4 linked regions of the Homo sapiens genome follow. The protein of the gene in region 1 interacts with the protein of each later gene in a biochemical or structural test. Each region holds a gene or a part of one and is shown in the gene's direction. Other genes may lie near its edges.

The links.
Region 2: the proteins of GIT1 (region 1) and ARHGEF7 form a complex in vitro, tested with the Homo sapiens proteins (one study listed by BioGRID).
Region 3: the proteins of GIT1 (region 1) and PXN form a complex in vitro, tested with the Homo sapiens proteins (one study listed by BioGRID).
Region 4: the proteins of GIT1 (region 1) and KLHL4 form a complex in vitro, tested with the Homo sapiens proteins (one study listed by BioGRID).

What each region holds. Positions count from the first base shown.
Region 1 is NC_000017.11:29,572,966-29,579,666, reverse strand, and holds the end of GIT1 (ARF GTPase-activating protein GIT1), read left to right. Parts: intron 1-678; coding exon of another isoform or gene 679-705; intron 706-887; coding exon 888-936; intron 937-1,295; coding exon 1,296-1,368; intron 1,369-1,924; coding exon 1,925-2,022; intron 2,023-2,419; coding exon 2,420-2,531; intron 2,532-2,670; coding exon 2,671-2,804; intron 2,805-2,992; coding exon 2,993-3,145; intron 3,146-3,216; coding exon 3,217-3,447; intron 3,448-3,535; coding exon 3,536-3,589; intron 3,590-3,768; coding exon 3,769-3,855; intron 3,856-3,963; coding exon 3,964-4,037; intron 4,038-4,196; coding exon 4,197-4,379; intron 4,380-4,524; coding exon 4,525-4,588; intron 4,589-4,731; coding exon of another isoform or gene 4,732-4,752; coding exon 4,753-4,965; 3' UTR 4,966-6,192; downstream 6,193-6,701. UniProt on the Homo sapiens protein: GTPase-activating protein for ADP ribosylation factor family members, including ARF1.
Region 2 is NC_000013.11:111,272,291-111,279,317, forward strand, and holds part of ARHGEF7 (rho guanine nucleotide exchange factor 7), read left to right. Parts: intron 1-1,523; coding exon 1,524-1,662; intron 1,663-2,440; coding exon 2,441-2,500; intron 2,501-3,241; coding exon 3,242-3,388; intron 3,389-5,296; coding exon 5,297-5,383; intron 5,384-7,027. UniProt on the Homo sapiens protein: Acts as a RAC1 guanine nucleotide exchange factor (GEF) and can induce membrane ruffling. Functions in cell migration, attachment and cell spreading. Promotes targeting of RAC1 to focal adhesions. May function as a positive regulator of apoptosis.
Region 3 is NC_000012.12:120,255,708-120,262,734, reverse strand, and holds part of PXN (paxillin), read left to right. Parts: intron 1-7,027. UniProt on the Homo sapiens protein: Cytoskeletal protein involved in actin-membrane attachment at sites of cell adhesion to the extracellular matrix (focal adhesion). Recruits other proteins such as TRIM15 to focal adhesion.
Region 4 is NC_000023.11:87,520,785-87,527,811, forward strand, and holds part of KLHL4 (kelch-like protein 4), read left to right. Parts: intron 1-7,027.

The sequences.
Region 1 (6,701 bases):
ACCACAGCCTCAAACGATCCTCCTACCATAGCCTCTTGAGTAGCTGGGACTACAGGCACATGCCACCGTGCTCAGCTAATTTTTAAATTGCTTTTGTATCTCTGTGTTGCCCAGGCTGGTCTCCACCTCCTGGCCTCAAGCGAACCTCCCACCTTGGCCTCCCAAAGTGCTAGGATTACAGGTGTGAGCCACTGTGCCCGTCCCTAGGGTATTCTGATGAAGTATGTTTGGAGTGTGCCATATGCACCTGTTATCACTGCAGTGCCTTAAGGCAAGGGGTAGTGCAGCCAGGTGTATCCAAAAAATCACCCTGGCTGCTGGGTGGAACAGGATTGTAGGGACAAAACTAGAAGGAGGGAGATTAAGAAACTTACAAAGCCCAGGCAACAGGTGATTGAGGAACCTGGGGAGCTTCACTAGGACTGGAGGGTGAGGGAGGCTTCAGGTGACTGCCAGGTGGCTGACACTGGTGGTGGACAAACAGGTCACTGAGAGGAAGAGCAAGCCAGAGGAGGAGGGGTGGGGGACGCGGTGAGATGAATTCAGCTTTGTCCCTTCTGGGCCGGGTGTGCGTGGAGATGGGTCTGGGCCTGATGTGAAAAGGCGTGTGCTGCCCTGCTCCTGGGTAACTGCCGCCTCTGTCCTGTTCTTCCCTCTGCTGCCTTCCTCTGGACTTAGATCTCGGCAAAAGTGCATGTCTCAGAGGTATATGGTGCCTGCCGGGGCAGCAGGCCTGAAGGTGGGGTAGGGCGGGGAGGCATTTGGTGTGCAGCATCTGGGGTGCCATCTCCCCGGGATCCCTGCATGTTGGGGAGGTTGCTGGCATGGGCCTGGCCACCTCTCAGGTCTCTCCTCTCCTCCCAATTCCCATCTCCCTCTGCCCTCAGCCTTGACTTATCCGAATTGGCCAAAGCTGCTAAGAAGAAGCTGCAGGCGGTAAGTCTGCTCCAACAGTGCCCTGACACTTGAAGCTGGCCCCTCTCTGATCCCCCACCCTCTGCTCTTGCTTCCTCTGCCTCTGACTCGATGACCTTTTCCAAGTCTTTGACCTGTCCCCTCACTGGCCTCAGCAGTCCCCTCTCCCTGACCTCCCTACAAGGGGATGGACTGGTCCCTTCTCTCCCACCTTGGAGTTTGGAACATGATCCCTTTCCACTTTCCCATTCTGAGACTGTAGGGGCTGGGCAGCACAAGGAAGGCCACCGGTTCCCCAAGGCTCACAACATGCTGGGGAGCTGGCCTTGGCACTGGGAGCCGATGCATCTGACAACATCTGGGCCCCTCTCTTCCTCCAGCTCAGCAACCGGCTTTTTGAGGAACTCGCCATGGACGTGTATGACGAGGTGGATCGAAGAGAAAATGATGCAGGTGAGTCAGGGAGCAGGAGTGTCTGGCGTGGAGGACCCGAGCGGCCCAGGCATGGGTCTCTGGTCCTTTACTGGGCTAAGAAGGGGTGCCTGGGGTTGGGGCTGCTCAGAGGCCTGCAGATGAGCCCCTGCTGGCTGTGAGCCTGCCTGGGCAGCATCCCAGGCTGGGTAGAGTGCTGAGGGGGAGGCGGCTAGCGTGCTCCTCCCCCAGCCTCAGACTGGGGCTCCTCTTGCTCTGGCAGCCTCCCACTTTGGCTGTCTCCCTGGTACCGCTCCACCCCCCTGCATCACTCCTTCCTGGCCACAGCCGGATTCCAGCCCAAACTCTGGGTTTGGATGAGTGGCACTGGCCTTGTTCCATTTGTCTGTCCCCAGCCGGCCACGCCCAGCCTTGCCCTGGCCCGGCCTAGCTCTGCGTGCCCAAAGACCACCCCTGTTCTGAACACCAGTGCTCAGTAGGCGTGGGGGCAGCTAGGAAGGCTGGGCTCAGTGCTTCCCCACCCCCACCTTGGGGGCCTGGCCACCGTGGCTGATCTGCTCCTGTCCGTCCCCTACAGTGTGGCTGGCTACCCAAAACCACAGCACTCTGGTGACAGAGCGCAGTGCCGTGCCCTTCCTGCCTGTTAACCCGGAATACTCAGCCACGCGGAATCAGGTGAGGGGGCTGGATTGGGGGCCTGGGGTGGTCTACTTCATCCCCGCGGTCCCTCCTCATCCGGCAGTGGGCTGGGGCCTGAGCCAGCTCTCCAGCATTTGCCAGGGCCTCCCTCAGGGCACAGCTGGCACTGGGATTTGGGAAGGTCAGGAGGCTGTTGTTTTGAGCACTTGGGGAGCAGCTCCGGTGGGTGTTCCGGCCTCTGCTCAGGCACCCTACTCTATCATACCCTGCCACGGGTGGCCTTGGCTGCTGACTAGCCAGGTGAAGCTAGGCTGGGACGCTTTAGCTGGGGTTAAATTAAATGGCAGAGCCATGCCTTGCTACTTGGTCCCTGCCGTCCTGCGTCAGTCATAAGGGGTCCCCTGAAGCCAGCCTGGCCCTTTCTGCCTTGCAGGGGCGACAAAAGCTGGCCCGCTTTAATGCCCGAGAGTTTGCCACCTTGATCATCGACATTCTCAGTGAGGCCAAGCGGAGACAGCAGGGCAAGAGCCTGAGCAGCCCCACAGGTGGGAGGGTTGTGTGGGAGGGTGTGGGAAGCAGGCGGGGCTCCAGGGGTCTTTCCTGCATGGCTCTCCCTGCCAGTGGTGACCTGAGAGATGGGTTGTGTGGTGGAGTGTGGCCTGAGTGACACTCCTGTGTCCTCAGACAACCTCGAGCTGTCTCTGCGGAGCCAGAGTGACCTCGACGACCAACACGACTACGACAGCGTGGCCTCTGACGAGGACACAGACCAGGAGCCCCTGCGCAGCACCGGCGCCACTCGGAGCAACCGGGCCCGGGTCTGAGTCCCACCCTCCTTCCCACTCCCCTGTGCCCTGACCCAGGCCTTCGCTGAGGCCCAGCTCTGTCCTCTTGTAGCCCAGGGGCCTGAGGGACAGGTGGGCTGCTCCTAGCCTCAATAACTGCCCCCTGCGGGTGTTGGCCTCCCTGCCCCCAGGTGCTGACCAGCTTAGGTCTCTCTCTGCAGAGCATGGACTCCTCGGACTTGTCTGACGGGGCTGTGACGCTGCAGGAGTACCTGGAGCTGAAGAAGGCCCTGGCTACATCGGAGGCAAAGGTGCAGCAGCTCATGAAGGTCAACAGTAGCCTGAGCGACGAGCTCCGGAGGCTGCAGCGAGAGGTGAGGGTGCAGCCTCGGTGGGAGGGGGAGCCCCAGGACTCCAGGGGGTTGACAGCACTTTGCACCCATAGATCCACAAGCTGCAGGCGGAGAACCTGCAGCTCCGGCAGCCTCCAGGGCCGGTGCCCACACCTCCACTCCCCAGTGAACGGGCGGAACACACACCCATGGCGCCAGGCGGGAGCACACACCGCAGGGATCGCCAGGCCTTTTCCATGTATGAACCTGGCTCTGCCCTGAAGCCCTTTGGGGGCCCCCCTGGGGACGAGCTCACTACGCGGCTGCAGCCTTTCCACAGCACTGTGAGTCACCTATGGGTCTCAAGGTGTGGGGAGATGGGTGGGGCTGCCGCAGGGTCCACCATGACGCTCGCTGTGCTAACATCCCCAGGAGCTAGAGGACGACGCCATCTATTCAGTGCACGTCCCTGCTGGCCTTTACCGGGTAAGCCTGGGGAAGGCGTGTCCATCTTAGCCAGTAGGTTCTGAGCCCCAGGGGGTTCTGGGCTCTGTGCTGAATTCGGGGCTTAAGATGATTAGACTGACCTGGTCCCTGCTGCACTGCTGGTGAGCAGGGGGGCAGTGGGGCACACTGACTCCATCCAGCGCTGCCCTGGGTTTCAGATCCGGAAAGGGGTGTCTGCCTCAGCTGTGCCCTTCACTCCCTCCTCCCCGCTGCTGTCCTGCTCCCAGGAGGGAAGCCGCCACACGGTAATGTTTCCATGCCCAGTGCCCACAGGGTGGCTGGGGGCCGTGTGGGCTAGGGGCAGTGTGGGTCCAGGAACACGGCGCTCACAGCCCCTTCCCTCCGCCCTCCAGAGCAAGCTTTCCCGCCACGGCAGTGGAGCCGACAGTGACTATGAGAACACGCAAAGTGGGGACCCACTGCTGGGGTGAGGCTCCCTGGGTCTCCAGTCCAGCCTGCTCACATGCCGAGGCGGGGAGGTTGAGAGGGCCCCCAGTGTGTGAGGACCAAGGCGGGCGGCTCCGAGGCTGGAACGTGTCTTTCTCTATATGTATCTTTGTCTCTGTTTTCTGGACCTGGGCCTCAGGCTGGAAGGGAAGAGGTTTCTAGAGCTGGGCAAAGAGGAAGACTTCCACCCAGAGCTGGAAAGCCTGGATGGAGACCTAGATCCTGGGCTTCCCAGCACAGAGGATGTCATCTTGAAGACAGAGCAGGTCACCAAGAACATTCAGGAACTGTTGCGGGCAGCCCAGGAGTTCAAGCATGACAGGTACTGAGTGGAGGGGGAGGTGAGGGGGATGCAGTTCCTGTTGGCTTCTAGGGTGTTGCAGAGAGCATGAGGGGCCCTGGGTTCTGCTGTCCCTGGGAACCTCCCTTGAGAGCCCCCTGCTTTATAGCCTCCCTTCTCCCCGCAGCTTCGTGCCCTGCTCAGAGAAGATCCATTTGGCTGTGACCGAGATGGCCTCCCTCTTCCCAAAGGTACAGGGGCCAAAGAGAGGACCAGGAGTGGGAGGGCCTCGAGCTGGGGCAGGCGTGGAGAATCCCATCTGATCGCTACCTGGGTGGAGACACAGACAAACTGGGCCCTGATCTCAGCTGGTGGCTTAAAGTCCAAGGTCCAGCCTCACTCCTGCCCCCTCCAGAGGCCAGCCCTGGAGCCAGTGCGGAGCTCACTGCGGCTGCTCAACGCCAGCGCCTACCGGCTGCAGAGTGAGTGCCGGAAGACAGTGCCCCCAGAGCCCGGCGCCCCAGTGGACTTCCAGCTGCTGACTCAGCAGGTGATCCAGTGCGCCTATGACATCGCCAAGGCTGCCAAGCAGCTGGTCACCATCACCACCCGAGAGAAGAAGCAGTGACCTCTCTCCCCACACCCTCACCTGCACCCTAGGACCTCACTGGCCATAGGAGCTGGGCCACTCCAGACATTAATCCCCACCCCAACAGAGCCACTGGCACAAGTGCCCTTAGTGCTGCCACACTCCCTGGCAGCCAGGTGCCCTGGTGCCCACCCCTGTCGAGCCCCTAAGGATGGGGAGGTGGGGGGGCAGGAGCTTCTGTCCCCCACATTCCATGCACCTCCCCTCTGTATATAGCATCTCCCCCCTCCTAGTGAGCAGGGGCCTGCAAGGCATCACTCCCAGCCCCTCGCCTTCTAGGGCACCCTCAGCAAAGGGGCAGGTGGGGACACTCCAAGTGGGGCAGCTCTCCGTACATGCGCCCCACCCCCATGAGCCAGTTCAGCCCTACTGGGGGCTGAGCGGGGGCATCCCCTCCTTTGTACATAGTCTCCATGGATGTCCCTGCCCTGTAGCCACCAGCCCCTTGCTGCTCTCCCTTTAATGCCATATGGCCCCTGCCTAGGGCACAGGCCCCAACCTGTGTGCTGGGGTCCCCAGCAGCAAACACTGGAAAGTCTGTTTTTTTTTTTTCTTTCTTCTTCCCCACCCCTTAATTTTAACTTTGTGGTAACTGAGTGCCCCCGCGTGCCTGCGTGTTGAGTGTGTGGGCGGCAGTGCCGTTCCGGAGGCCTGGTCCATCTGGAGTTTTGAGGGGTGAGGGGACCAGAGCAGTGGGACCAGCATGGGGATCAGCTTCCCTTCCCCACCTGGAGCCAGGGACTGTCCGGGTAGCCAGTTTTGGTCCTGCCAGCTGCCTCCCTGATCCCTCCCCACTCTCGCCCCTTCTCTATGAACTTAAATCAAAAACCACTTCCCTCCATCTCCTCCTGCTCCTGCGTGGAGGGGGAATGTGTGCTGGCTAGGGTGGAGGACTGAGCACCTGAGCCTGGGGCTGGCTCCCCGGGGTCCCCGACTCAGCTGGTGGCTGTGGAGCTGAGTCCCCTCCCCGTAACCTCTGCAAGGCCAGCACCCACCATCACTACCTGCACCTGCTGTGGTCCCACCCTCTGGAGGCCTGGGAACCTGGCTGCAGCCTGGGAAGGCTGGAGAGGCAGACGGTGGGACCCACCAGCTCTCTCCCCATCCCGCTTCTTCCCTGGGGGCCAGGCCCTACCTGTGTGGTGGTGGGTGGGCTGTCAAGACGTGTCATGTACATTTGTATCAAAAATAAAGAAGTGACCATGAGCTGTTTCTGATGCTTAGAGAATGGGGGCTGGAGGGAGGTGGCAGACATGAAGGGTGACTGCAAGTGCCCCAGGACCCCCGCCCTAGGGAAGCCCCTGTGCTGGGAACGTCTGTCTAGTGGAAGAGTTAGTTTGCGAATAACAAAGCTAACATGTATGACGATAACGCCACCCTCCCACGAGCACATTCCTAAAGCCCCATGTCCAGGGACAGGTTGGCCAGCGGGGGCGGGCTGCCTCAAACACCACCTCCATGGCCTAGGACGAGGGTCCGGGTGGGAGTCTCTGTGCGGCAGATGCACAAGCTCAACTCCAGAGTCTACTAAAAATAATTTAATTAGAAACGGAGTTTTGGCAAGGGAGGCAGAAGCGGCTCCTTTTCTCCCCTTGGCCGCCCACTCAGCAACCAACAAGGAGGAAAGCCCCCGCAGTGCTCGGCCAGTGCCGCGCCATCGCCACCAGGGAGCGCCCCGCGCGCGGTCCACGTGGCAGAGGTCGCGGCCTCGCGGC
Region 2 (7,027 bases), on another chromosome or scaffold:
TTTCCTCTGGGTTAGCCAAAACACTGTCTGTCTTTTCCCCGGGAGCCCTTGATGGTTCTGGTGTCCCCGAGACCTCTGGCAGTAGCCAGCTTGGCTGGGGTGGTGCGGTGGGAGGCTCCTGTGAGACCAGAACCGGAAATTGGCTTGTTTCTCAGTTTTGCTGTTAGGATTTTCATGTTTATTTTAGGACATCGTTTACATAATGAGGATATAAAAGTATCTTTTCCTTTTAAGGGAAAACCTCTAGACTAGGAAAATTTGTTCCTAGGATTTGTGCCATGGGTATCATTTGAACCAAGCTCTGCTGACTAGAGACCCCTATCTTCTAGGATGGGGCGTGGTGATGGGGCGGGGGTCACCTGGGTCTCCTGGATGGGATGTGGTGACTGAGAAGTCATCCTGGTCTGGACCTGGCATCGGCTGCCAGCGCTGGTGCTGCCTCCCCTCCTTTCTGTGGGCTGTACACTGTCAGATGTGTGGACTGATGGCACATGCAATTTGAGGGACAGCAGACCCAGGGCCTGACAGAGACCTCAGAGATCGCCAGTGAAGGGGTGTTGCGGTCAGGTGACTGTCAGCCTTAACAAACGTGTGGGTGAAGAGCTGGACCCCCCACAGAAGCCTGCCCGTGTCCTCTGCCACAGCCATGGGAACTCTGAGGACAAAGATGACACACATGAGGACCCACTGTAGGGAAAGATAGGCGAGGCACTGTGAAGGGGATGGTTGAAGAGGAATACAGAAAGTTCTAAAACTTGTTTCTGACTCTTTAATTTTGGGATATGCACTGTTTCTATGTCCATACACAGGGACACCTTCCTTCCTTACGTGTTGTGAGGATTGAATGTAACAATGCTTTTGAAGTTCTAAAGCGTAAATCAACATTCGCTGTCTGCACACAGGGACCCCTTTCTTCCTCACGTATTGTGAGGATTAAACTTAAAGCTTTTGAAGTTCTGAAGCCTAAATCAGCGTTTGCTCTCTTCTCTTGCTGCTTCTCGTGCTCCTCACCCCAAGAGCCATTGCCTACTCCCAGGCTGAGTGCTGGCAGCACATAGGTGGGGCCTGCTCGCTGGACGAACTCGCATCTGGGGATGACTACCATCAGTGTGCTCTAGCTCTTTACCGGAGCAGCTCGGTCCTTGTTCTACCACCTTGAGACTCTGAGATTATTGGAATCCATTCTGGCTCTGAGTGTGCATGTTTCCATTGGATATGTCTGCATGGCACTGATGTGCTGGAGGACCTCGCCATCAGTAGGATCTCATGGAGACCCACATGTCCTGTGCTGTGTATAGTTATTGTTGCTCATATGAGAGCAGGAACGGGACCCCTTAGGGATGGGAGTCCCCTTTGGCATTTCCAGATAAGCAGCGCAGATTTGGGATAAAAGCTGGAGCCTTCCAGATGTTAAAAGCAACACTTATGTTTCATAAATTCTGGCTGTTGCTCATGGAGATGAGAGAGCCACCATTGTCTCTCATTGCTAACCACGAGTGTCTCTCTTGCCACTTGCTGCCCAGTGAGGAGTTGGGGGAGTTCATGGAGACCAAAGGTGCCAGCAGCCCTGGGATTCTCGTGCTGACCACGGGCCTGAGCAAACCCTTCATGCGCCTGGATAAATACCCTACGCTGCTCAAAGAGCTCGAGAGACACATGGAGGTACTGCGCTTTCATTCTCTTACTTGGAGTCCTTACCAAGGGTTAGTGGCATGGTCAGACTTACTGTGAAAGAAAGTATTATTCATGATTTATTTTAGAAGCCAGAACCAACAGAGTTTACAAAGAGTTTTGTTAAATATTATGTTTTTCTCCTTATTCCAGCTCTATTAGAAAACATTTACCCCTTATCTCTCTTTTACCCACTGCTGCTGATTGAAAAGTTTCCAAAAGCTGAAACATGAGAACTGATTTTCAGATAGTGTTGAGATGTCTTACCTGGATCATCCAGCTACAAACAATGTGTGCATAGGTTATAGGGTAATACTGTACTAATCATTTGATGAATGATTGTGCTCTTTTAATTTTGAATAACAGGTTGCAGCCTAGCAGAAATTTGGGTTGAAGTTACTCTCTTGGCTTGAGTTGGCAAACCTTTTCTATAAGGGGGCAGACTGTAGGGTCTTCTTCACGGCTACACAGCTCTGCCATTTTAGATACTGTATGTGAGCCGTGGCAGTGTTCCAATAAGACTTTATTGATGAAGCAAGTGTTGGCTTCCCCACCCCTGCTGCTTGTGACTGTTCTCTTCCAACTTATATTTCCCCAAAGTCTAATGGCTTCGTGATTTGCTGAAAGACTGACACTTTAATGCTGAGGGAAAAAGGGAATGTTAAGGGTTGAAAAGTGTTAGAAAAGTTTCAAGCTGGTCTGTAGAAAGTACCTTTTTAAGAAAAGCTTTTCCTTATGAAAGCTAATTGTATGTTTCTTTTACTCAAAGGATTATCATACAGATAGACAAGATATTCAAAAATCCATGGCTGCCTTCAAAAACCTTTCAGTAAGTGATTAAGCATATTGTTTTCCCCCCCAGACATTATTGTGACAAATGAATGTAAAAGAATTATCAACTGAAAAAGTCAAATGATTAAAAAATGACTTGTGCTGACATGAAAGAAAAACAGAGTCGGCATTCTGTGGCTGGTAAACTCCTTTTAGTGGACTATGATAGAATAATTATTTAAATTTTTTAAAGTCACTGTGTAATTGATGTTAGATCTACTTTAAAATTGTTTAAAACATTTTTTTACCCTTCATTCATGTTGTCTTTAATGATTTATTGCAAAACAGAACAATGGTGGTTCCATTTTCTCTGCTGTTGTGTTGTCTTACCAACTGCGTTTTGGAAATATATGGCCTTATTTTATAGCACAAGTTATACTTTCTGTTTCTTCTTTTCAGTCTTCCATATTGGCAAACACGAACAAAACCAGAATGAAAATACAGTTCTTGTCCTGTCCACATTTCTTTTTTGTACAAGTGGCAAAATGTGCTCTATCTTTCTAAAATAATACTTAGTATTCCAGAGCAGTTGTGTGTGTTGCTTCTCTTAACTTGGTTTCATACTTCTAAGCAAATACTTTCAATTCCCTATAATTAAGCAAATCGCTCAATAAATTATCTGTCTGAAGAAGTAAGATATAAAGCAATAATTGTCTTAAGGATGATACAAAGCAATGTGGCCGGAACTTAACATTCTGAAAGTTTATGTCTGTTAACAGTGTTGTTCTGTGTCTGTCAGGCCCAATGTCAAGAAGTCCGGAAGAGGAAAGAGCTTGAGCTGCAGATCCTGACGGAAGCCATCCGGAACTGGGAGGGCGATGACATTAAAACTCTGGGCAACGTCACTTACATGTCCCAGGTCCTGATTCAGTGTGCCGGAAGTGAGGTACTGCTGCCCACATGCACGCACCAGGGTTTCTGTCCCACTCTTAGGAGCTCATAGCAGAAGATTTTAAAGGCATCTCAAGCGATGAAAAATGTCTAATAGAAGCTCTATCTTATAATTTGTGAGCTACTTTTTATTCTTGACACAGGAGAGAGGCTTATGGCATGTTAGAGAGGCTTAGAGCTGAGTGTGGACTTGTTGATCAGTTTGATCCAGCTGAAGTCAGTGTGGCCCGAAGCCCACGTGAACTGAAGGATAGATAGTGTGCAGAAAGACTTGCAGGAGTCCTGTGCACACATCCGCATGGAGCTGTATGCGCTTATCTGGCCAGCAACTTTGTACCAAGGCTCACTCTCACAGGGACCTGCTGCTCTCAATGCTTTCGGGTCATTATACTTTCCTGTGAAAGTATGCTAGCTGACATATGCTTACAGGAGTCACAGTTTTCTTACAGGTTTGGTTTAAGTGAGAGATCAACCCAGATTTTTGGGACATACCCACCCACACAGTGAAAATCGAGCAGTTTGTTTCATGATTCACATTGACATACATTCAATGGGTCACTGAACAGGCACCTCTTTCTGAATTTTATTCTACCTTTGCAAAAATAACATGATCAAAACATGCGAAATGACTCATTTTTGAACACAAGACTCCAAGGAGAATAAGAAAACTAAAACTTCAAACTTATATAGTGTGTTTTCCTTTCCACCTGTAAAATATCACCCCTTCTACATAGTCTTGTAGTTTGGGTACCATAAGAAACCATGATTATAAAAACTTCACATCTTTTCAGAAGAAGTTTCTTTTTGAGTCATGCTCTTTTAAACTTTAATCTGTGGAAACATTTCCCAAAGTGTGTTCTTTATAATATTAGATCTATACAGCACTGGTGGGTGTTACTCCAAAATGCTTCAGAGTGGTTCTGATCACGACTGAACGTAATTAGTGGAAAAGATTCTTTATGATAGAGCTCCTCAGAGACTTGGCTGTGAATGTTCCCAATGTATGTTGTGATTCTTCAAGAGGGGAATATAGCAAGTCGTTCTCAGTGACTTCTTTAAAGTACGGAAGACTCTTTTCTCAAGGTGCTTTGCATAAGCCTAATGTTCTGAGGAATATACTTGGGGAAACTAATTCCTAGGACTGATTTCACTTTTTTGGGCCGTAGTTTAAATGTCAACATGTGAAAAGGACTGTGGCATTTTTTTGTCTCTTTTTGGATTCTTAGGAACTTTTTTCTTTCACTTATGGTCTCTTTGGCTTTTATCTTACTGAAGCAAATGATTTTTAATACATAAGTAATACTTTTAAGTCTGATGTAAACCAGGTGATGTTTATGGGGTGGATGAAAACAACACTGAGTCGACATTTGGGAGGTTTGGGAAGTGCCAGGAATTACTAGTAGACCAAAATTGATTTTAACATTTTATCCTTTCTTTAGCTTAAAGACTCCACCTGTTCCCCCTGACCCCATTAAAATTTATAGGTTCTCTCCTTTTTCTCTGAACCAGAAAAAGAAAATTTTAGCTTACCTGAAAATAGTTAATCACAGAGCTGAACTCTTTAACCAAATATAGTTTCAAGATGTTACACAGGCTAATTGTGAGTCCAGGATCTTTTAATCAGTCCGTTTACTTTCTTACCTTTTGTTTTTTGAAGAATTTGGAAGTCCTTCTCTTTACCTATATGTTAAAGCTCTCTCATAATCATATGTTAAGACTTAATACAGAATTTATCATAATTGTTTCCATTTAATTTACCTGATAAAACTTGATAGAAATACCTAAACGAGAAATATCATGTAATGTTTCATAGGGCCTAGTATAAATAAGTGAAGTATTTGTGCTCACATTTGTTAAGTAGATGTTTTTTAAGAAATGTTTTGGATTTCTTTTTTTGTATTAGGAAAAGAATGAAAGATATCTTCTACTCTTCCCAAATGTTTTGCTAATGTTGTCTGCCAGTCCTAGGATGAGTGGCTTTATCTATCAGGTAAAACACAATTTAAATTTATATTTTATTGTGGATCTGAGGATAATTTCAAACTGGCTTTGAATTTTGTGTTAAATATTACGTGTATCTATCTGTGTATGTGCTGTGTGTGTAGTGCTGTATATTCAGATATGGACGTACAGCTCCTGTTTGTGTTTCGTTGTGACTGCAAGCATATCCTATGTTAATTTCAAAAAAGGAAAGAAGTGTAAACTGTAGAGCAACCTCATAAGGACACAGACTACTGTGGCACAAGTCAGTCTCTGTCATTGCCTTCTGTCGTTTCATGCAAAATACCTTGCTCCTCCTTGCTATGGTTTTATTCTGTGAAATTGGTTCAAGTAGGGCTTGTGGGTTAGTGGGGTAGTGTAGACTAAGATCTTGTGTCAGTGGCACGGCACCGCCCAAATGCATCAGCAAACAGAAAGTGATGTAAGGGTGTAAGTAGCAGTGTGTGATCGTTGAACCTTTTTAATTTTTGTTTCCCTGCTTCTCTTTGAGAAAATGTGACAGCAGATTTGGGAAGGAGGTGCAAGGGTGAGCAGGGCCTTTTCTGTTGCGACAGTGGTTTATAGTGGTGGTATATGAAGGAGCTGGTATTTTCGCTGTCTGTCTAGTAGATGCACTTGGCAGGTTTCATTCTTCTTTTTCTGGGAAGTTACAGAGGCTCATATCCTTCCCATCAACTTTCTGAGGACTGGCCAGTCACCACGTAACCACTGCAGCAGAAGCCGCCACTTCGTGTTCTCTGGGTTGCATTTCATTGTAGCACGTGTTGTTTTGTGTTGGCGCAGCAAGGACGTTCAAGATCCCTAAGCAGACACTATGCCCTCACAGAGGCTCTGCCGACACCCAGAGAGGACTTGTGGCCATACGCTTACACCAACACACGTGCTTTAGAATTGGTGAATCACATATGTAGGAACAGACTCAGGAAAGTGAGGCTGTAGTTTGTTAGGCCACTGCTGAAGAGAGGTGATCTGTGGCTAGGATAGTGCCCACTACAGTTTCCCCCAAACTAGCAGCTACTTCTGTGTTAAATGACCTTGATAAACCTAAATCTCTGTCCTTTCTGGTCAGCACTATCTGGCTTCCGATTTTATATCCCCAGAATCTCATTCCAGTGGCTGGAGGCAGGGGCCTTCTCTAACCTAAGGAGAGAAGAGGTTGTCACTTGTGGCAGGCTTGAGTCTCTGCCTGTGTGGCTGGTGCTTACACTGGATTTGCCCTTGATGTGTTGACAGACTGCTGGAGCTCATCTCAACAACAGGATTTTATTTTTCCATTCTTAGCACAGTGGTGACCCATGGTCTCTGTATCATTGGTATCCGTTTCTACCATTAGAACACTGGCTTTGGGGGATGCCAAAAAGTGTTCGGTCCAGCCACAGTCATAGTGTTCTATACACCGATGTTCAGAGGGGCTAGGTTAAACACAGTTGTGCGGTTTCATTTTCTGTAGGACTTACAGCTGTTAAAGTACTTATATGCATTACGAATCTTGGAAAGGAGTTCACAGTGTGTAGCATTTTTTAAATACGCTTGGCCACAGAAGTGTCCAGCAGTCTCCTCTTCCACCGGCCATGCTTTAGGATGAGATTTCTCAGCCTGGGCACTGCTGACGTTCTGGACTGGATCGTTCATG
Region 3 (7,027 bases), on another chromosome or scaffold:
CTGTGTTTTCTAACCCGATTGCTTGCTCTTCCTCTGTTCATGTTCTCAGTGTACTTGGTGGGGGCTTTGACCACAACTGTGGTCTAATCATGATCATGTGCGCTTCATGGGAGACAGGCACTGTACTCAGCACTTTACGAGCTGTATCACAACCTTTCAGAAAGGGAGGTGTTTTCGCTCCACTTTATACATGTGGAAACCTGAGCTCAGGGAAGTTTAGTGGTAGTGCTGGGATTTGAACCCAGGCTCATCCAATTCCAGATCCGGTTATCTTAATCATCATAAGGTGGTAGGTGCTGGTGACTAACCAGGGGGATGAGCCTTGGGGCCTGCTGAGTAATTGATAGTTACCTTTAACAATCTCTGCCCTAGGGGCCCATCCCAGGAAATGGCAAAGGGTGTGTCCAGTGCAAGACTGGGTAGCTTTGCCTTCCCATCCTCTAGCAGGGGGAACAGCCAGCTGTTGGCAGTGCCCAGTTGCTGCTGGAATCTGGACATGTCTTCTTTCAGCTTCTCAGCAGTCTTGACCCTTTGGAAAACAGTGCCTCATTGTCCTTGGGGGTAGTGCTAGGGGGGCAGAGGAGTTGCCTGGGGCATTGGGAGCTATGGAGCCTCCCTGTTTCCATGGAAAGTCTGGACTTTGGGCTTTCCTGTCTGTGGTCCCTCTGTGTGTTAGGGCAGAGTCAGGGCACCCAGCTGCTGGGCGTGTGGCAGAGGCGGCATTTACCCATGCAGCGATAGTGCCCTCCTGGTGGGCTCTGCATCAGTGCCAGACCTTCTCCTGGGCTTGTGCTAGTAAGGGGCAGAGCTGGGATTCAAACCTTGGTGGGTTTGATTCTTCAGCGGGTACACTTTCTGATATGTGAAGCTGTCTGCTGCCTGGGCAGACATAGCTTGATGGAGAAATGCTCAGCCTACTGGAACCCAAAGCCCTGTCACTATAGGTTCAAGGTCTTTTGAGGGAATATCTCAGTATTCCTTTTTTCCAGCTTCCCTAGTGATGGTCATGCATTGAAGAGACTGGGTGTACCCTTGGCTGGAGAGGCTGATGGAAGGCCAGAGTTATTGGTGGGCCACTGAGCAGCCCTCCTCTCCTATTTAGTCATCCTGCTTGGAGTATCTGACTCTGAAGCTTCTCTTGCGTCTTTACCTCGCTCCAGAGATGTTGAATAAACTTCCAGCCTCATTGCAGCCTTTCCGGGGATCATCCTAGTCTCAGTGCCTTCATTAATAATAACAAAATCTGCCGGGCATGGTGGCTCACACCTGTAATCCCAGCACTTTGGGAGGCTGAAGTGGGTGCATCTTTTGAGGTCAGGAGTTCAAGACCAGCCTGGCCAATGTGGTGAAACCCAATCTCTACTAAAAATACAAAAATTAGCTGGGCGTGGTGGCGCGTGCCTGTAGTCTCAGCTACTCAGGAGGCTGAGGCAGGAGAATCGCTTGAACCCGGGAGGCAGAGATTGCAGTAAGCCGAGATCGCATCACTGCACTCTGGCCTAGGGGGTACTTTTCTTTTTTACAGTGTTTACAGAACTTTTTCTCATAATATTTATTGAGCTCTTATTATGTGCAGGCACTGTGCTGGGCACTTTACATGCATTGTTTGCTTGAATCAAGCTGGCCATATGAGGCAGGTTTTATTAGTAGTCGTATTACTACTACCTGTTTTATAAGTGAGGAAACTGAGACACAGAGAGGTGAGCCCACTTGCCCAAGTTCTACAACTAGTGAATGGCAGTGCTAGGATTTGAATCCAGGTGGTCTGGCTGCTGAGCGGGACTTGCAGCCAACTGTTTTGTACACTTTTTTTTGGAGACAGGGTCTGCAGCCTCTGCCTCCCAGGCCCAAGTGTTCCTCTTCCCTCAGCCTCCCGAGTAGCTAGGACTACAGGCATATGCCGTAACGCCCCGCTAATTTTTGAAATTTTTTGTGGAGACAGGGTTTCACCATGTTTCCCAGGCTGTTCTTGAACACCTGGCCTCAAGCAATGTGCCTGCATCAACCTCCCAAAATGCTGGGATTACAGGCATGAGCCATTGTGCCTGGTGCATTCTTTACACTTCTGTTCATAATACTGCATCTGATATGGGTTGCCCATTGGTTTGACTGTTTTCTGTTTCTAGGACACTAACATTTTTCTGCACCCACCCTATTCTCTGTTGTCTTCCACATCTGTCATTTCCCTGTTCTCTGCAGCTTCTTGTCTGTCTTTTGTTCTTTTTTTTTTTTTTCCTGAGTTTCACTCTTATTGCCCAGGCTGGAGGGCAATGGCATGATCTCGGCTCACCACAACCTCCACCTCCCAGGTTCAAGCGATTCTCCTGCCTCAGTCCCCCAAGTAGCTGGGGGCATGAGCCACCATGCCCAGCTAATTTTGTATTTTTAGTAGAGACGGAGTTTCTCCATGTTGGTCAGGCTGGTCTCGAACTCCCGACTTCAGGTGATCCACCCGCCTCGGCCTCCCAAAGTGTTGGCATTACAGGCGTGAGCCACTGCACCCGGCCTTTTTGTTCTTTCTTGGGGACACACACTCAGGATGGGATGCAGGGTCCTGGGGGGAGTGTCTCCTGTTCCAGGGGAGGCCCCAATCCTCCCTCCCTGGTCACCTCTCCAGTCACCTGTTACTCTTGAGACAGAGCAGTGAGCTTACAGCACCACTGCCAAGGAGAACCTGGGGCAGGTCCCCTGTGGTCCCTTGCCACCTCCTCTGCTCAGGAATCAGAAGCCTTCCTGTGCCCCCAGCCCCGCTGCACCCGAACATGCTCCTTGTCTTTCCCGTATCCAGAGGAGGGAGTTGTTGAAAACTTTATGGTGGAGAATGAAGGATGTCCTATGGGAGGGGGAGAGGAAGAGAGAATCAGGAAGCTGAGTTTTCTCAGAAATGTTCACAAAGCAAGTCATGGAAATGGCTTCAGGGTGCCCTCCTCACCTGGGATGGGCCCTGAGACTCCATCGACAGCCTCACGGGGTCCACTCTGCCTTTTGCAGTCTGGGTCTTGTTGGGAGTCTCATATCTGGCCTTGAGTGTACATTCATACCCTGATAAGTCTTCCAACTAACTAACCGATTGCCTAACCAGTGGTGCTCAGGGCTGGCCTCTCCAGGGAGGCCTTGGATGCTGGGCCAGTGGTAGACAGAACATGCGGTTGGCCAGGCCCAGTGGAACCCCAGTGGCCAAATCTTCCCTTAAAGACGGACTTTTAATGCTTATTTCTTGTGTGATTGTGGTATTGTGGTTTTATGGGAGAATATTGTTATTGTTAGGTGCATGCTAAAGTATTTAGGAGTGAAGTGTCATGATGTCTTGCAACTTATTTTTATTTTTTCATTTTTTATTTTTGAGGCAGAGTCTTGCCCTGTCACCCAGGCTGGAGTGCAGCAGCGCGATCTTGGCTCACTGCAACCTCCGCCTCCTGGGCTTAAGCAATTCTCCTGTCTCAGCCTCCTGAGTAGCTGGGACTATGGGTGCATGCCACCACACCCGGCTAATTTTTGTATTTTTAGTAGAGGTGGGGTTTCACCATATTGTTTAGGCTGGTCTTCAACTCCTGACCTCAGGTGATCCACCTGCCTCAGCCTCCCAAAGTGCTGGGATTACAGGTGTGAGCTACCCCACCTGGCCTCAACTTAGTTTTATTTGTTTTTTTTTGTTTGTTTGTTTTGAGGCAGAGTTTTGCTCTTGTTGCCCAGGCTGGAGTGCAGTGGCACCATCTCAGCTCACTACAACCTCTGCCTCCTGGGTTCAAGCGATTCTGCTGCCTCAGTCTCCCGAGTAGCTGGGATTACAGGCATGCACCACCACGCCTGGCTAATTTTTTTATTTTTAGTAGAAACCAGGTTTCTCCATGTTGGTCAGGCTGGTCAGGCTGGTCTCAAACTCCCGACCTCAGGTGATCCACCCACCTCGGCCTCCCAAAGTGCTGAGATTACAGGTGTGAGCCACTGCACCCAGCTCAACTTAGTTTTAAATGATATAATGAAAAAAAGGATATACACATAAAGGGCAGAGAGCACAAGGGCCATGCGTTTACACAAAGTGGTAAAACAATGACAGCCATTCAATCTAAGTGAGAGTACCCGGGCCTCTCAACTTCTCTGTGTGCTTAGACATTTTTATAATGAAAAGTTGGAGAAAAGTAAGGAAACCCTGCTTTTCCATGATGGGCTTGGAGTTGTTGGGCCTAGGTGCTGGCCTGCGCCTGCCTATGGTTGGCCTGAATGACTGCTGGTCTCCTGTGATTGAGCAGGTGGTGGGAAGACTGGGTGAGCAGAGACAGTAGCTGGGGGGGCCTCAGGTGACAGTGACTGCTGACTATCATCTGGGAAATGGGGAGCACAGTGCTGTGACCTGTGCAGAAAAAAGACAGGCCCAGAGACAGTGTGTGTCCATAGGTGTGGAGGCAGCCTCATGAGTTATTTGAGCATGATGACATTAATCAGACCAGGGTTGAAGCATGTGAGATGCCGAACTCTGGTTGGAGTTTGAGATGGGTTGTCTAGGCTGATGGGATGCAGAGCAAGACTTTTTTTTTTTTTTTTGAGACGGAGTCTTACTCTGTCACCCAGGCTGGAGTGCAATGGTGTGATCTTGGCTCACTGCAACCTCTGCCTCCCAGGTTCAAGTGATTCTTGTGCCTCAGCCTCCGCAGTAGCTAGGATTATGGGCGTGCGTCATCACGCCTGACTAATTTTTGTAATTTTAGTAGAGATGGGGTTTCACCATGTTGGCCAGCCTGGTCTCGAACTCCTGACCTCAGGTGATCCGCCCGCCTTGGCCTCCCAAAGTGCTGGGATTACAGGTGTGAGCCACGGTGCCCAGCCACAGCAAGGCTTTACATAATTCAGGGAACGGTCTCTGGGCAGCTTGAGGCCTGTGGGCGGGGAGGAGATGTCTTTTGCCTCACATCATGAACCCCTTATCTGTGGCCAGTGGAACACCATTAACCTGTGGGCAGTGATGGCTGAGTGTCCCCAGGCTTTTGCTTATAGCTCAAGTCTGACCATCCAGTTTTCCAGCCTTCAGGCTCCCCCTCCTGGAATCCCCACTCCCTTGGTCCCTCCTGTCTAGTTTGTGCTGACTCAAAGCTGGCCCTCTTGGACCTCCAGTCTGTTTTGGGGAAATAGCTGGATTCTGGCACCAGTGGCCCTCTTGGCTCTGAGGCAGAGGTGAGGGCCCTGGTGCCTACTAGAAACATTTCGGGCAGCCAGCAGGCTCTCATGAGGGGAGGGCTTCATGCCAAGGTCTTCTTTCAGCCTCATGTCATCTATGTCAGCGTGCAGAGATGCCGAGGCTGGCCACTTGGCGAGGACTATGAGGTCTTCTAGCGAGGGCTCAGAGCTTCACTCTGCCTATTTGAAAGCAGCATGATGTGTGTTTTATGGGGGAGGGGGTGATGCTGGGAGGAAGCTTTATGTAATTCTTGGCTGGAGCTCAGGTAATTGTTTTAATGAAATGGAATGCAGCTTATTCAGAATTCGCTTGGCAGAAACAGCCATGTTCTGTTCTGTTTTCTTGTTGGGGAGAGCAGGGCACACATTTCCAGCTGTTTTGAATCGTAGAACTCTGGGTGAGCTGGAGCAAGGGGGGTGGAACCCTCCAGGGAGCTCCAGGGAGCTTCAGGCCGATTCTCTTCTGGATCCCGGTCTGTGTGTATTGTTTTGAATGAGCCTTGGAGACTTTGGCCTCTTCTAAAACATAAAAACCCTACTGAGGCCAGGCGCGGTGGCTCATGCCTGTAATCCCAGCCTTGGGAGGCTGAGGCAGGTGGAACACCTGAGGCCTGAAGTTGGGAGTTCGAGACCAGCTTGACCAACATGGAGAAACCCCATCTCTACTAAAATACAAAATTAGCTGGGCGTGGTGGCGCATGCTTGTAATCCCAGCTACTCGGGAGGCTGAGGCAGGAGAATTCCTTGAACCTGGGAGGCGGAGGTTGCGGTGAGCCAAGATCAGGCCACTGCACTCCAGCCTGGGTGACAGAGCGAGATTCCGTCTCAAAAACAACAACAACAACAAAAAAAAACCCTATTGAAAGCAGGCTATGAAATGGGTGTAATGCCTGCCTTCCACATTGTTGGGAGACTGAGTGAGGTGCTTAGCACATAGTAGACAGATCCTCAAGGATGGCCTCTATTTGCTCACGCTTTACTCCACCCCCCACGTCCCCATCTTTCTACCCCCTTTTATACCTCATGGTCATCATCTTCTGTCAGTGTAGATGGCTGTGGCCCCATGTGGCCCCGATGTCCCCATCTGCAGGTCCACCTGGCTCTCCTTTTTCTTCTGGTTCCGTTTTTCTCCTCTCCTTCTCTTCTCTTCTTTCTCTTTTCTCACAGGGTCTTGTTCTCTTGCCCAGGATGAAGTACAGTGATCTGATCACAGCTCACTGTAACCTCCAACTCAAGCGATCCTCCTGCCCTCAGCCTCCTGAGCAGCTGGGACTACAGGCACGTGCCACCATGCCTGGCCAATTTTTTATTTTTTATACAGCCGGAGTCTCATTATGTTTCTCAGGCTGGTCTCGAACTCCTGGCCTCAAGCAATCCTTCTGCCTTGGCTTTCCAAAGTGCTGGTATTATAAGTGTGAGCCACCATGTGTCTTGCCTGTTTCCCTCTTTTTACTTTTCTGCTTTTACTAACTTCAGTTTTTTGTTTTGTTTTTTAGAGAGTCTTGCTCTGCCGCCCAGAATGGAGTACAGTGGCATGATCTTGGCTCACTGCAACCTCTGTCTCCCAGGGTCAAGCGATCCTCCTGCCTCCGCCCCACCCCCCCCAACCCCCCGCAGTCCGCAGTAGCTGAGATTACAGGCACACACCACCATACCTGGCTAATTTTGTATTTTTGGTAGAGATGGGGTTTCGTTTGCCATGTTGGCCAGGCTGGTCTCGAACTCCTGAGCTCAGGTAATCCGCCCACCTCGGCCTCCCAAAGTGTTGGAATTACAGATGTGAGCCATTGTGCCTGACCTGCACTTACTAACTTTTTTACTTTGCTCCTTTTTATTTTATTTATTTTTAAATTTA
Region 4 (7,027 bases), on another chromosome or scaffold:
TAGCATTCCAACAAAAAGAACACATATTTTAACATTGTATTATGATAATGCTTCCTATGTGACAGAGTATTTAATTATGAAATAATATATATAGGTATTTGCAATTGCTCATAAACATATTATTGCATAAGTATACAGATGGATGTCACAGTGTTAACATGAAAAATCATGCTTACTGCATTTACTGAAAGAGATGTCGTGATTTCCTCTTTGTGTTCGAAGACATTGAATAAAGTGCAAATGAACCATTTATGGGCCAAGAACATGCCCCAGTACAAAATTGGACATTTACAGAGCTGTTTAATTCTAAGGAATTGTCAGGAATGGGGACCATGCCCTTATTTTACCTGTTGGGGTTTCAGGCTTTTGCACAACCTACCAACTGTACTGATATGTGACTTTAAATATTTTTGTCATCTGTGCACTGCCAGAAAAGACTCCATTCTTTCTTTACTAGAGCCCTTTCCAAGTTTCAAGTGAGGTTTGCCTAGAAAAAATGAGCAGATGTTATTGTATATGTTGCTATCCAAAAGAAAGTAGGATTGGATGAATAAGACTTAGAATTTATTAATAATTTATTCCACAAAGATTGAGCATTCATTGTGTTCCAGGCACTCTTCTAGATGTTAGGGATAAAACAGGATCAAAACAGAGAAATCTGTTTTCATTGAATCATTGAATATACATTCTAATGGGAAGAGAGAGGCAATAAAAACAAACCAAATTATAATATTTAGGTGATTATAAATAATATGAGAAAAATTAATTTGAAAGAATAGAGTGAAGTAGAGGGCACTCCTTCAGATAGAGAAGGCTTTTTGGATGAGGTAATATTTGAGTAGATATTTAAATGAAGTGAAAAGAAGACAGAATGTCTGACTCAAGAATTTGAAGCAAATGAGAGGGTACTTCTCCTGTGCCAAGGGAGTACTTAACCACCATATATGCTTTTCTATACAAATCAATGCCACATGTCCCCACAGAGTCCATTGATTAATGTTCAAAATATTCCTTAACCGGTGAACTAAAAATTATGTCCTGCCCTGTTATTCATTATAGTGATTTTAGGATCACATGTGTGGTCCATGACCACAGAGGTGACTTTCCAGCCATCCTGTAACCATGTTGCTCTTTTGCCCTCTGGGGATATGGCTATTCAGCCAGCGTGGCACATGCCTCATACAGAGACCTCTGCCTTTTATGAAAACAGACACATGATAGTGTATTTGCCTTTTTTAACAAAACGATTCAGATAGGGTCAAATGTATTGTAGGTCTTCATCCTCAACACAAACCCATCTGTTTTATGAAATATGCTAGGGAAATACTCATGCATAAGAGAAATTGTAAGTCTAAAACAGTGAAACTTATTGTAAAATTATTTCCCATAAAGCAGAAAATGAGATATGTGGGTATCTGCAGGGAGTGCTTTCCAGGAAGAAATCAATTTCATGGGACCTGAGATGGGAGTGTGGTTGATAGTGTATCTGGAGAAGCACGCTCAACAGAGAGAGTGGTAGGAAATGACTTTGGAAAGGTAACAATAACAAAGCAATACTAATACAACATTAAAAATAAGAAGTACCTTTTGTTGATGCTTACTGTGTGCCAAGCATGGAGCACTTTACATATATTTTCTCCTGCCCCCAAGGAAAATCTTTGAATGTGAAGCTGATGCTCATATCTACAATTGGTATTTCTCCAGGCATTATATCTGTTAATGTTGTTGCCTGTCTTCTTACGAGGTGAAAATAGTGTGATTTTCTGAAGTTCAGAACTAGGCCTGCTTCACTTAACTTTACACTGCATTATTCAGTAGAGACTTTTATGTCAAATGAAGGAATGAGAAATGAACTACAATTATATAGTTATTTACAGAAAGGTTAAGGTTAAATCTTTTTGCCTATGGTTTAAAACACACCGCACAAAATTACATAAGTTATTCAATTGCTTTACTACATTTAGAACATTACGACAAAAAATTTAAATTTATTGCAATGATTCCTAACATTTTTAGAGATGAAAGCTTTGCTGGTTGATTGCAAATCCTTGCTACTCATTGCCTCAATCCTGAGAGTGTGGTACCATGGTCTTCATGTCTCATTCTTGACAGTACGGTATCACGTATATAATTAAGTTAACATTCATTAAAATATATTTAATATTTCAAAATTTGGGGACTCTCATTTAAGGATCTTGGTGATACTTTGGAGACATATTCTTTTATGATTAAACATAGTTATTATTTCTGATATGTGAAAGACATCATTTAATTTTTGCATTTGGAAATAGAAATAAAGGCTTCAAAATGCATTGTATTATATAACATGTGATGTCAAGAGCAGCATATTAATTATATTGACGTGTTGCAAATTGCACAAATGTTCAGTCACTTTGTACTTTAAAGACTTTTTTGGAAACTTGTATGTCTTCTTTCTGACCCTTGCCCCTAATGCTAATCTTGTTGATGCCTTAAGACATTATAAGTCATATGACTTTATTAGTGAAAATAATTGCAGTGTTTTATACATATATGTACACGTATATGTATATGTATGTATTTGTACCAGTGTGAAATTATTTTATTTAAAGGAGAAAGAAAAACCGAAATCAAGGAGGAGCACTGGGGAACACTGGATCCTCAGTTAAAAAACTTAAGTCAAAATCAATATTCTGAAAGGTAAACCTGAAACATCTTGTAGTGCTAGAAAATAAGTATTCAAAAAAATGATGTAGGTGTGTCAAAGGGACACAGGGATCAACTAAAAAAGCTCCCAATAGCCAAAACTGGAACAATTTCAATAGCAAAAGGAAGTACTATTGGATTGCAAATCATAATATAAAATAAACACCCATGAGTCCATACTGATATAAATAGATGACTGAGTAAATGAGAAGGCCGGCCGTGGTGGCGCATGCCTGTAATCCCAGCACTTTGGGAGGCCGAGGCAGGCGGGTCACTTGAGGTCAGGAGTTCGAGACCAGCCTAGCCAACATAGTGAAACCCCGTCTGTACTAAAAATACAAAAATTAGCCAGACGTGGTGGCAGGCACCTGTAATCCCAGCTACTCGGGAGGCTGAGTTAGGAGAATTGCTTGAACGCAGGAGGCAGAGGTTGCAGTGAGCCGAGATTGCGCCACTACACTCCAGCCTGGGCGACAGAGTGAAACTCCGTCTCAAAAAAATAAATAAATAAAAATAAATAAATAAATGAAAGAAAAAAGACAATTTTTTTGTGCAGAAGAATTTCAAATAATTTATGCCAGCACTCTGCCCTCAAAGAGGTCGAGCAGAATACTGGGCCTTAAGTGTAAGCTGCACATAGTGACTTCTTTCCAAAGGGTCGAGTACGGTATGAAAGAAGGGCAGGAAAGTGTAAATTTACACCATTAGCGGAGAAGTCTGACAAATATGAGCTTAGCCAGATACTCAAGTTTAACATCAAAAGTGCTCAAAATTGCTAAAATTTTTTACATTCTCACCAAAAAATAAAAATAAATTGGTGAGGTGACAGATATGATAATTAGTTTATCAAATCTTTTTAATGTATACATAGATCAAAACATTGCATTGTACCCCATAAATAAGCACAATTATTAACTGTCAATTAAACATTTTAAACATTAAAATATTGTTCAATCATGTTGACAGTATGTACACTTAGTGTGATGTAATGACAATAATATTTACCTTTGTTATCTTCCTCCCCCATCCCCATCATTCCAATCTAATCATAAGAAAAACATCAGAGAAATTTACATAGGGGGACATTCTACAAAATACCTGGTCTATACTCCTGAAACTGTCAGTATTATCAAAAAAGAAAATCTGAGAAACTGTCACAATCAAGAAGAGCCAAAGGAGACATGAAATATAAATGTGATGTGTTACAGAAAAGGGACCTTTAGTGGAAACTGAGGAAATTGAACAAAAATGGACTTTAGTTAATAATAATGTATGAATATTGGTTACTTAATTGTAACATATTTACGATACTAACAAAATGTTAATAGTAAAATAAATTGAGTGCGGGGTATGTGGGGACTCTATTCTATGATTAAACTATCACAGCTTTTCTTTAAAAAAAATGCAATATTTTAGCAAGGGTTATCTGCGTGAATCAATTTCCTAAGTCAGCAATAAAGGACCATCCAATTGGGAAAACTGGGTATTGGTTGTTGTTTGTTTTGCTTGTTGGCAACTAGTTAACGTAATACTGAGTCAAAATCAATGGGCTGTTACTGTCTCTAATGCATAAATCCTACACATTAGAAACAAGATAATATCATAAAGGCAATCCTAAAGAAGTTAGCTAAAGTTCTGATAACATCTAGTAACTACATGCAGTATCAAATCTGACTAACATGATATTAATTGTGGCTATCATTCAGTGTATATCAATTTTAAGGCTGTAGCAACTAATTAAATCACAGTTGGGTATAACAGAAAAACTTATTTTTTTATCACTGAGGATTCCACGAACACTAATGAAGTGGTATATATTTATTAGTATTTTCAAATAAAAATATGGCCTGCTACTTTAAAATAATATTTACATTGCTGCGATTTATCTCTCAAAAGAAAAACAATGACAGATATAAGACAGTCTTTATTATATAAAAATTTTTATCATCTTCCTATGCTAAAAGAAAAATATAGTCATTAAGTATATCTTACTTACAGTGTTTCTATTCCATTTAGATAATCATTTCACCATGAAGAATGGAAAATTTTCAGCTATGGTGTTTGTTTGAGAAATAAGATTTTACAAGTAGACTAAAAATAACTATCTAAGAAAAGGTGACTAGAAGTGAGAAAACTTAAATCAAATCGTTTTCAGTTATCTGATGTTTTAGGATTAAATGAGCATCATTGAAATTTTGAACATTAACCATTACATAAAGGTTTACTCTGGAAACACTATAACGTATGTATTTTCTAAATCAATACATATATATTATACTTACACTATCATTTGCACTGAAAGAGACCAAATATCAATGATCATATTTATTGAAACTATCAGCAGTGAATTCATAGTTCTTTGTAACTTCTGGTTAACATTTCTTAGCTTATCACTATTAGTCACTATGACTCATCCCTTGCATGCTTTTAAATATTACTGTACAGAATGTGTGTCTTGCCCTCCTCCCCACATTGTCTATTGCTCTTTCTTCATCAGCAGCCATACTAAATACCTTGCAATTTTCTCGGCACTTATGTAACAGAAGCAATTGGTTCTTCATCAAGCCCTGGGTAGCTTACTAAAGGCAAGCTATCTATTACATTTCTTGTCTACCCTTTTCCTGTAAAACTAGACTGCTATCAGCACAGTGAGACTTAGGTGTCCTTTTCTGGTTAATGTTGATTACAGTACCTGTAACAAAACTGAAAACAACGCATGAGTAACAGACTGTCACATAAAATTGTAAGCAACACAGCTACTTAATTTAGTCTGAAGTATGTTGCAACGTGCCAAAATTCAGTTGTTTAAGATGTTGGTTTTCTATTAATGTTTCCTCCATTCAAGAATTATTTATTGAGCCCTCATTTATGTGCATGATGGTTTCCTACTCATACAAATGAATAAAAAGGTAAATAATATGTGCTAATTTTCACCAGAGGCTTATGGCATAGTTGGAGAGATAAAGTGTATTCCCTTGAAAGGTTTCATGGCCGTAAAAAAGAAGTGCAATGTAAGAAAACTTTAAATTGCTTAGTCATTGAGCTCCATAGGCATTCAAAGAAAAGAAAGTCTTTCTGGCCAGAAAAATCTTGGAATGTTTCATGGAGGTGACATAATTTGAGATTAAGCTTGAGGAATGGACACATTTTAATACAACTATGGGAAATAATTAATTATAGGAAGAACGAAAAACCTTTCTATTGCCTTTCTAAGGAAAAAGGTAATGAAGCAGAGAAGTTTAATGTATACTCCAATGGAAGACTTCAGTTTTGTCGAAATGAAAGACATATATTGGAGAAGACTACAAAATGAGGAGACCAAAAAAGAAGGTCAGAGCTATATTATGGAGGCTCTTAAAAGACAAGATAGGGACTCTGGACATTTTCTTAGAAGTCAGAGCGTATTAATCCTCAAGAAATCTCTAAAATATATTGTGTGTGTGAATATTTTGAGGGAGAGGTTCCATTCACTTTCCTCAGGTTCTCAAAAAGTTCCATTTTACAAGAAAATTTAAGAGGTACTGTTGTAGACAATGAAGAATCAGTGAAAACTATAAAACTATGGAATGAAATAATGAAAACAATGGAAAAATTTATCATTGAAATTCCTGAACAAGAGACGAAAATAGTCTGCAATTTTTAGTTAATGAGATTTTTGCAAGGAAGTTTTCCCAGGCAGTTAGAAACACCTCACTTTTATATATTTACACTAATTGTCATCTTGACATGGATTACCTAATCTACTATAAAAGATTCCAAGCTTTTGAGAACATTCTTAAAAATATAGTTCTGCAACCCTGTATCGTAAGCTGTTGCATCATAGCACCATCTTGAAACTGGACTCACCATTACAGTGTGTCCTGCATTGGAGGCCAATAACCACTTATACTCTTTGTCCCTGAGACCTCATCATCATTCTATCACATTCACATGGGTGCCTGCAGCACCACAACCCTGGCTGCCAAGAGCCTGGGCCTGATGTTAAAACTAAGACCTAAGCAACCAAAGCCACGCGACACTCTCCTCCCTAGGAAACAGTTGGACCTGCACAGCAGAGAATCTTCTGAACAACTTGCCAGCTTCCCACACCCGCACATATATGTGTGTGCCCATGCCCATCCTCATAGCCAGTTTAGTGGCTGTTCCAACCCCCTGGAGAGCTTTCCACCCCCACACATCCAGCATAAAAACCAGCCTGGTGTTTCCTTCCCAGCAAAACGGTGACACTGCCATCCCAGAGCTCCACAGCCTAGGCCACTGACATATATACCATATAAAAGTGACACCCTAGGATTCATCTGTAGGAAAGAAAGACTCTCTCTGGGAAAGCTACTCACAAAAT